2 separate regions of the Homo sapiens genome follow, and region 1 is linked to region 2. Evidence: fine-mapped QTL for protein levels in blood plasma. Region 2 holds a variant in brackets. A gene starts in the other region. All regions are shown on their reverse strands.

Region 1 (2,858 bases), not on the chromosome of region 2:
AGCTGTTGGGCTATTGTGTGCTTTGGGTCACCCCATCAAGACAAGATTCCCACTGCCCTGGTGGCTCTGCCCAAAGGGGAAAGCCCCTGCCCTGCCTCCTGGACCCTGCTCTGGGCACAGGTGTTTCACAAGTAACATCATGGACCCCGACAGGAAACTGAACACGAGTGGAGCCCAGTGGTCTCTTGGGAAGCAGGGGCCCAGGCCAGCCCTCACTGTCCTCTCCCAAGGGAGCCCTTAGAGGGTCAGGGACCCTGGGCAATGATCTCCCAGCCTTTCAGGAGCGGCAGCGCTGGAAGGACCCAGGCTATGGGATACCCAGACAGCGTCGGCTGCATCCAGCCCCCAGCGTGGCCCCAGGCACTGGTCAGTGTGCCTCTGGCCTAGACCACAAAGAACCAGGTCACAAAGTGGGCCTTGCCCTCCTGTTGCCCCTGACCACTAGCCCACCTGCCTCTGGCCCCCATCAGCCATTAGTCAAGTTGCCAATGGCCCTACTGGGAAGGGGGCTCGCACCGGAGAAGGTCACAGACATGGGCCTGTGGGCAATGGGGACAGGCCTTTATCATAAGGAAATCCATGGCCTTAGGAGGTAGCCTGAGCCAGTACCTATCTTGTTTCCCACAGAAGGAATAAATATTTACATCCACGGTCAGAAACCACAAGAGCTCCTGAAAATCAGCCAGCTCAGCAGAGGCCATGGGGCAGGAGGGGCCAGCCAATCGGTGACCGTTCCCTTGTGATATTTAACAGAAGCTAGGGTGAGAACCCTGGCCTGGCTGGAACACCCAGACCAGCTTATATCAACTTGGCAGGAAGTAACAGAGTTAATTAACAGGGTTGACAGCAGCTTCTCTGACCTTCTCCTTCCAGATCCACCAAAAATCCCAGACCACTGACTCAGTGGTGAGATACCCCTTGAAAGTCCTGAGAAACTCCCCCCGGGAGAGAAGACACCAGGACAAGTACCTTTTAAGGGAGCACCAGGGCTCAAGTAAGAAGACACGGCCTGTGGCTCCAAAGCCTGAAGACAACTCTGCAAGACAAAAAGAGATGGATGGGGCCGGGCATAGTGGCTCTGGCCTGTAATCCTAACACTTGGGGAGACCGAGGTGGGAGGATCACTTGAGTCCAGGAGTTTGAGACCAGCTGGGGCAACATAACAAGACCCCATGTCTTAAAAAAAAAAAAAAAAAAAAAAAGAGAGAGAGAGAAAGAAAAAAGAACAAAAAGAGATGGATGAAGAGGGAGACAGGAGGCAGGAGGTGGGTGAGGCCAACCAAGAAGGAGAGGGGGAAATCAGAGACAGGGAGAGGAAGGGAGAGGCAGAGAAGAGCAACCTACACAGTTTGGGACAAACTAGTATCTGTCTGTTCAGCTTCACCGAATGAGCAGGTCGTACTGAGACACCAACTCCCTCTTCAGTGAGCACACTTCATCCCCCAAAGCCCCAAGTACAGACTCCCCTGCCCAGCGCAAACCCCAAAGCTGATGTAGTCAGCTATTTGGCACTCCCCTCGCCCCAGGTAGCTCAGAATACCCCACCCAGAGGCTCCCAGAATACCCCCGCTCCTGCAAATGAGCCCACCTGCTGGAAATGGGAGGGTCCCCAGCAGCCCAGGAGAAAGCCACAGGCAAGGATTCCGGCCACACAGAGGGGAGGGCATCTTGCCCGGGGGTGACGCTGGTGCATCCTCAGGAGAGCCAGCCCGAGGAGTGGAGCGGAGTGAGAGGGGGCCTTGGTGACTGGGAATCTGGTCAGTATGGAATGGGACAGGCCTGCTCACTACTGGGCGGGACGATTAGGCAGTGTTTACTCTTGGAAGCTTCCTGCCAGGGCAGGGGCCGTGGCTAGGGTGGGCGGCCTGCAGCTCCTCCTGCTGCAAGCTGGGCCTTGCTCTAAGATGGTTGCAGTTCAGGGTAACCTGCAGCCCAGTCCTGCACACCAGACAGCTCTCCGGATGTGCACGCCCACCCCCTTAGAGGAGGCCTAAGCCATCTAATCTGGAGAAGGGACACTGGACCAGAAACCCACAGACGGGGGTTCACAAGGAATGCCAGGACCTCGGCTGACTCCCTCTCCGGGGTCCCCGCTCCCATCTGACAGATGAGAGGCTGTGCCAAAGACATCGTGGTTCTGGCTCAACTCTCCACCTACTCTGTGCCTGCGCCTGATGAGGAGAGTCGCAGAAGCAGGCTGCACGGCACCAGATCTCAGCATCATCACAAACGGCCTGGCAATCCCCTTCATCTCCTGGAAGACTCACTTCACATGCTCCAAACCACTCTTTTACACCCACAGAGCCGCACAAGCTGATGACCAGCAGGGGGATTCACCTTGTCTTTCCACCCCTCAAAGTGCAGCCTCTCTCCTCCTCTGCGATCAGGGAGGACACACCTACACTTCCTGCCAGGCCCTGGCTCTGGATCCCTTCCCAGCTCTCTCCTCCTGCATCGTTAGTTTCTGCCCCTCTGCTAGAGCCATTCATTCATTCCTTCAGCCAACAAATGTTTCACTGAGCCCCTGAAACAGGCCAGGCTCTGTGCTAGACACCAGGAAAGCAGCCCCAAGCCAGGCAGACAGCAGCCTCGGCCTCTCACAGCTTAAATTCTAGGGAAGAGAGCCAGACAGCAAAGTTGCTAGACAGACACATGTTGTATATGTAGTATGTTCAAAGGTGGTAAGTGTTATGGAGAAAAATACAGCAGAATAAAGGAATGGGGGACTGGAGGGAAGGGTGTGCTTTCATGCAGGAAGGTAAGGAGGCTGTTGGAGAAGGGGGCATGCTTAGATATCGAGATCCTGGTACCTGGCTCACTCCATCAGCATGAATGACTCTCCTGTCTCTTTTTGGTTT
Region 2 (2,961 bases):
TTTGGCAATCATGTTGCAGACCAATAAAACAATCTAAACCACTCCTCAGACAGCATAATCTACATGACTGCATTATGCTCACAACATGAAAAGGATGAAAAATAACTGACTATTCAAATATGTATTGATTTGGATCATTAGATTACAGTTATGTTGGGGCATATCTCCAGTAACTTTTCACTAGCATATTTTCATTGCACAGTTGAAGCTAGTTAAATCTGCTCCATTGATTTCTTATTTCAGTGAACTGCTGGACATTTTTGCGGGGAGGGAGATTAAGTAGTTTATACAGTGACACAATAACCAATTCAATTTCTAAAATTAGAGTCTAATTATAAGGTGGCAAAAGCCTTGAGGACATAAAATGTGTTAGCCAAACTAAATAGATTGCTTTACATAAAGTAAAAAAAAAAGTGAAAAAATTTCGTAGTAATATTTTAAGTAAATATCAATGGAGTAAGTGTGACAGATAACTATTTCTTGTTTCATCAGGAATTATACTTTCTAAATAGTTATACTGATCCAAAATAATAATGGAATTAATTTCAAATGTACATGTATATATCATGATATATACACAAATCACCATCTTCATAAATATCACTCTTTAATATGTGAAATTTTTGGTATTTTTATATATATAGACCAGTTATACAGTGACAGGAGGTTGACCATAAGAAAAAAAGACTGAAATTCTTTGGCTGGAAAGTGCCGTAATTACCTTTCCCGTTTCAGAGTCTGTTTCACATTGTGTGACTGCTGTCATGTTCAAAAATAAGTCCCTTATAAAGTTAGACACTAGGTGGCAATAGAAACCCCCCTTTGCTGCCTTTGTCCATTACCTTGCATTTGAAATCCACTCTCTCTTATTGACTTTTAAGTTTCACATAAAAATCAAAAACAGGAAAACAGCCACATTTCTATCACTCCTCTCTCATCATAATATTCCCTTTCTTATGATGAAAGATTATGTTTCAGGTGAACCAAAGTATTTCATGTGCCTATGATGCAGGATTTGGAAAATAAGTTCATCATGTTTGTTACATTTGTCATTTGCGTATTTAGCACTGAAGATGGTACGTTTGTTTATAAATGCTAAACAATGTATTAACATTTTATTGAACCAAAATAAGTTGTATGCTTTAATGCAAGCATCTGTGTATGATACATCAAATTCAATTCATGAAATACCATAATATTGATGACTTAGGTACCTTTTTAGCACTGCATTTCTAATAAGGATTTTCTCCTAAAGTGAATAACAAGAGGCGAGCTTATTGCCAATAAAGATTAAAGATGTGCTTTTCCCAAAATAATGTAAACTGGGAGGAAGAGAAGTATTCAGAGAACGAACAGAAATTTAATATGATAGTATTCATTAGTATTATCCATAAAACCACTGTCAGAATATGTTTAAATTTTTATATAAAATGGCATTGAGGGTTTCAGGGGGAAAGAAGGGCAGAGTATTTGAATAGTGAAGTATCAGTCAAAATGAACATTTATTTTGTCGGCTGGCTCTACTGTATTGCCAGCACATTTACCTTGTTGTACTACACAAAGTAGGCTGACCACCAATTCAATTCAAACTGCTGAACTTGATGTATGGGGTTTGTATGGTTTAAGCCCCTGGTTACTTTCAAGTTTGCTTCTCTTGTTCTTTACCTGGCCGAGGTTTACATGGGTTGAATTGGGAAGGAATTTTTTTTCCAGTGAAATGATTATAGATTTTTTTTT[TA/A]AGTTTGGTATCTGGCCAGGTTTCTAAGATTGTCTTCCTGATTATTTGCTGACAGTATTAATTGATGATACTCTAGAGACTGAGTAATTTTGAAAATAAGCATTTTCACTGTATCAAATTAAAAACTCATTCCAGATTAAAGGAGTCGAAAGAGACAACCAAATTCACTGTGTAATTTTTTATTGGATCCTGGATCAGAAACAATAAAGCATTGAGGAACAACTGTCTACTAGATAATATGTTTCTTGGGTATGTTATATTATGGTTTTATAGGAGAATATTCTTGTTCTTAAGGTGATATATGCTAAAGTATTTGGGGCTAAAATGTTATGTTGACTGCAACTAACTTTCAAGTGAATAAGCACAAAAAATATACATAGAGATGAAGAAAGAAAAAAGCAAATGAAGCAAGTTGTTAAAAAAAGGATGACCCTAAGATATGTTGGTGTTCATTATATAATTCTTCACATCTTTCAAAATAAAAAATTGGGAAAAAAATCAATCAACTTTATCTCTGGAAGTACACAATAGAAAATATGTATTACTATTCTTTTATTTCCTACTTGTCCAGAATGAATCTATCATTTTCTCTAGATGAACTGTACTCCAGATATTCTAAGGTTAATATTTACTTGATTTTTTGTGGCTGACAAAAATTTTGTCTTAAGGGTAAGATAAGAATGATATTTGTTTCTTGAACAGATTGTAAGGCATGAAGAAGGAAAAAAACCACTTGTTTTTATAAGAAAATCTGTTCCTTCTTCTATAATCCCAACTGTCCCAAGCTGAATCACTAGGCATTGGATACACAGTGTGCTATCGGAGGCTGAGTCATCCCTGCTGCAAATCGAAACTGTGGATCTGAAAAGAATTTTCTCATCTAAACCAGAGCTTCAGTCTCCCAGGTGATGTAGTTTTTATGGTGTTATCAGTTTAAAAAATTTCCTCATAGAACGTATGCTTATAATAATCTAAATTCCAGTAAATAATATGACAGAAAAAGCATTTGGAAATATGGAATAGGAATTTTGATGACCACGTCTTGCTATGGAAAGTTAAACCAGCTCCTGGGCGAGCATGTTAATGAAGAAAGCTGTTAACTGTTATATTTTTATTCAGCAAAACAGCCATTAAATATTGTTTGTTTATAGTACTCCACCTTATTCAAAAAGGAATTTGAGGCCAAACATGTAGTAAAAGAGCATTTAAGATATGAGTAGTTT

Alleles and levels. Positions count from the first base shown, and alleles are read on the strand shown. Strength reflects both the effect of a copy and how common the allele is.
As copies of A replace TA in region 2, the plasma level of the protein whose gene starts at base 1,770 in region 1 goes up (weak association).

What was found. A credible set is the group of variants that fine-mapping cannot tell apart. PIP is the chance, under the fine-mapping model, that this variant and not a neighbour inherited with it causes the effect. Protein levels are from antibody-based Olink assays in UK Biobank. Linkage for the fine-mapping came from a reference panel and not from the study's own genotypes, which makes the PIPs less certain.
Region 1: it holds the start of ADAMTS13, and the variant in region 2 is the best candidate, but not a certain one, in a credible set for the plasma level of the ADAMTS13 protein (UK Biobank, PIP 0.58).

Annotation. Positions count from the first base shown.
Region 1 is chr9:133,421,279-133,424,136 of GRCh38, reverse strand. ADAMTS13 (ADAM metallopeptidase with thrombospondin type 1 motif 13) reads right to left here and starts at 1,770. Exons shown (of 29, transcript NM_139027.6): 1 at 1,589-1,770; 2 at 970-1,036. The coding sequence starts at 1,693. RefSeq lists enhancers at 2,016-2,075, 2,196-2,245, 2,476-2,615.
Region 2 is chr4:174,154,269-174,157,229 of GRCh38, reverse strand. The region is part of intron 1 of LINC02268 (long intergenic non-protein coding RNA 2268); the gene reads left to right. Among named protein-coding and RNA genes, the nearest start is that of LINC02268, 65 kb to the left of the region's middle. The variant TA/A (reference allele first, on the strand shown) is at 1,738.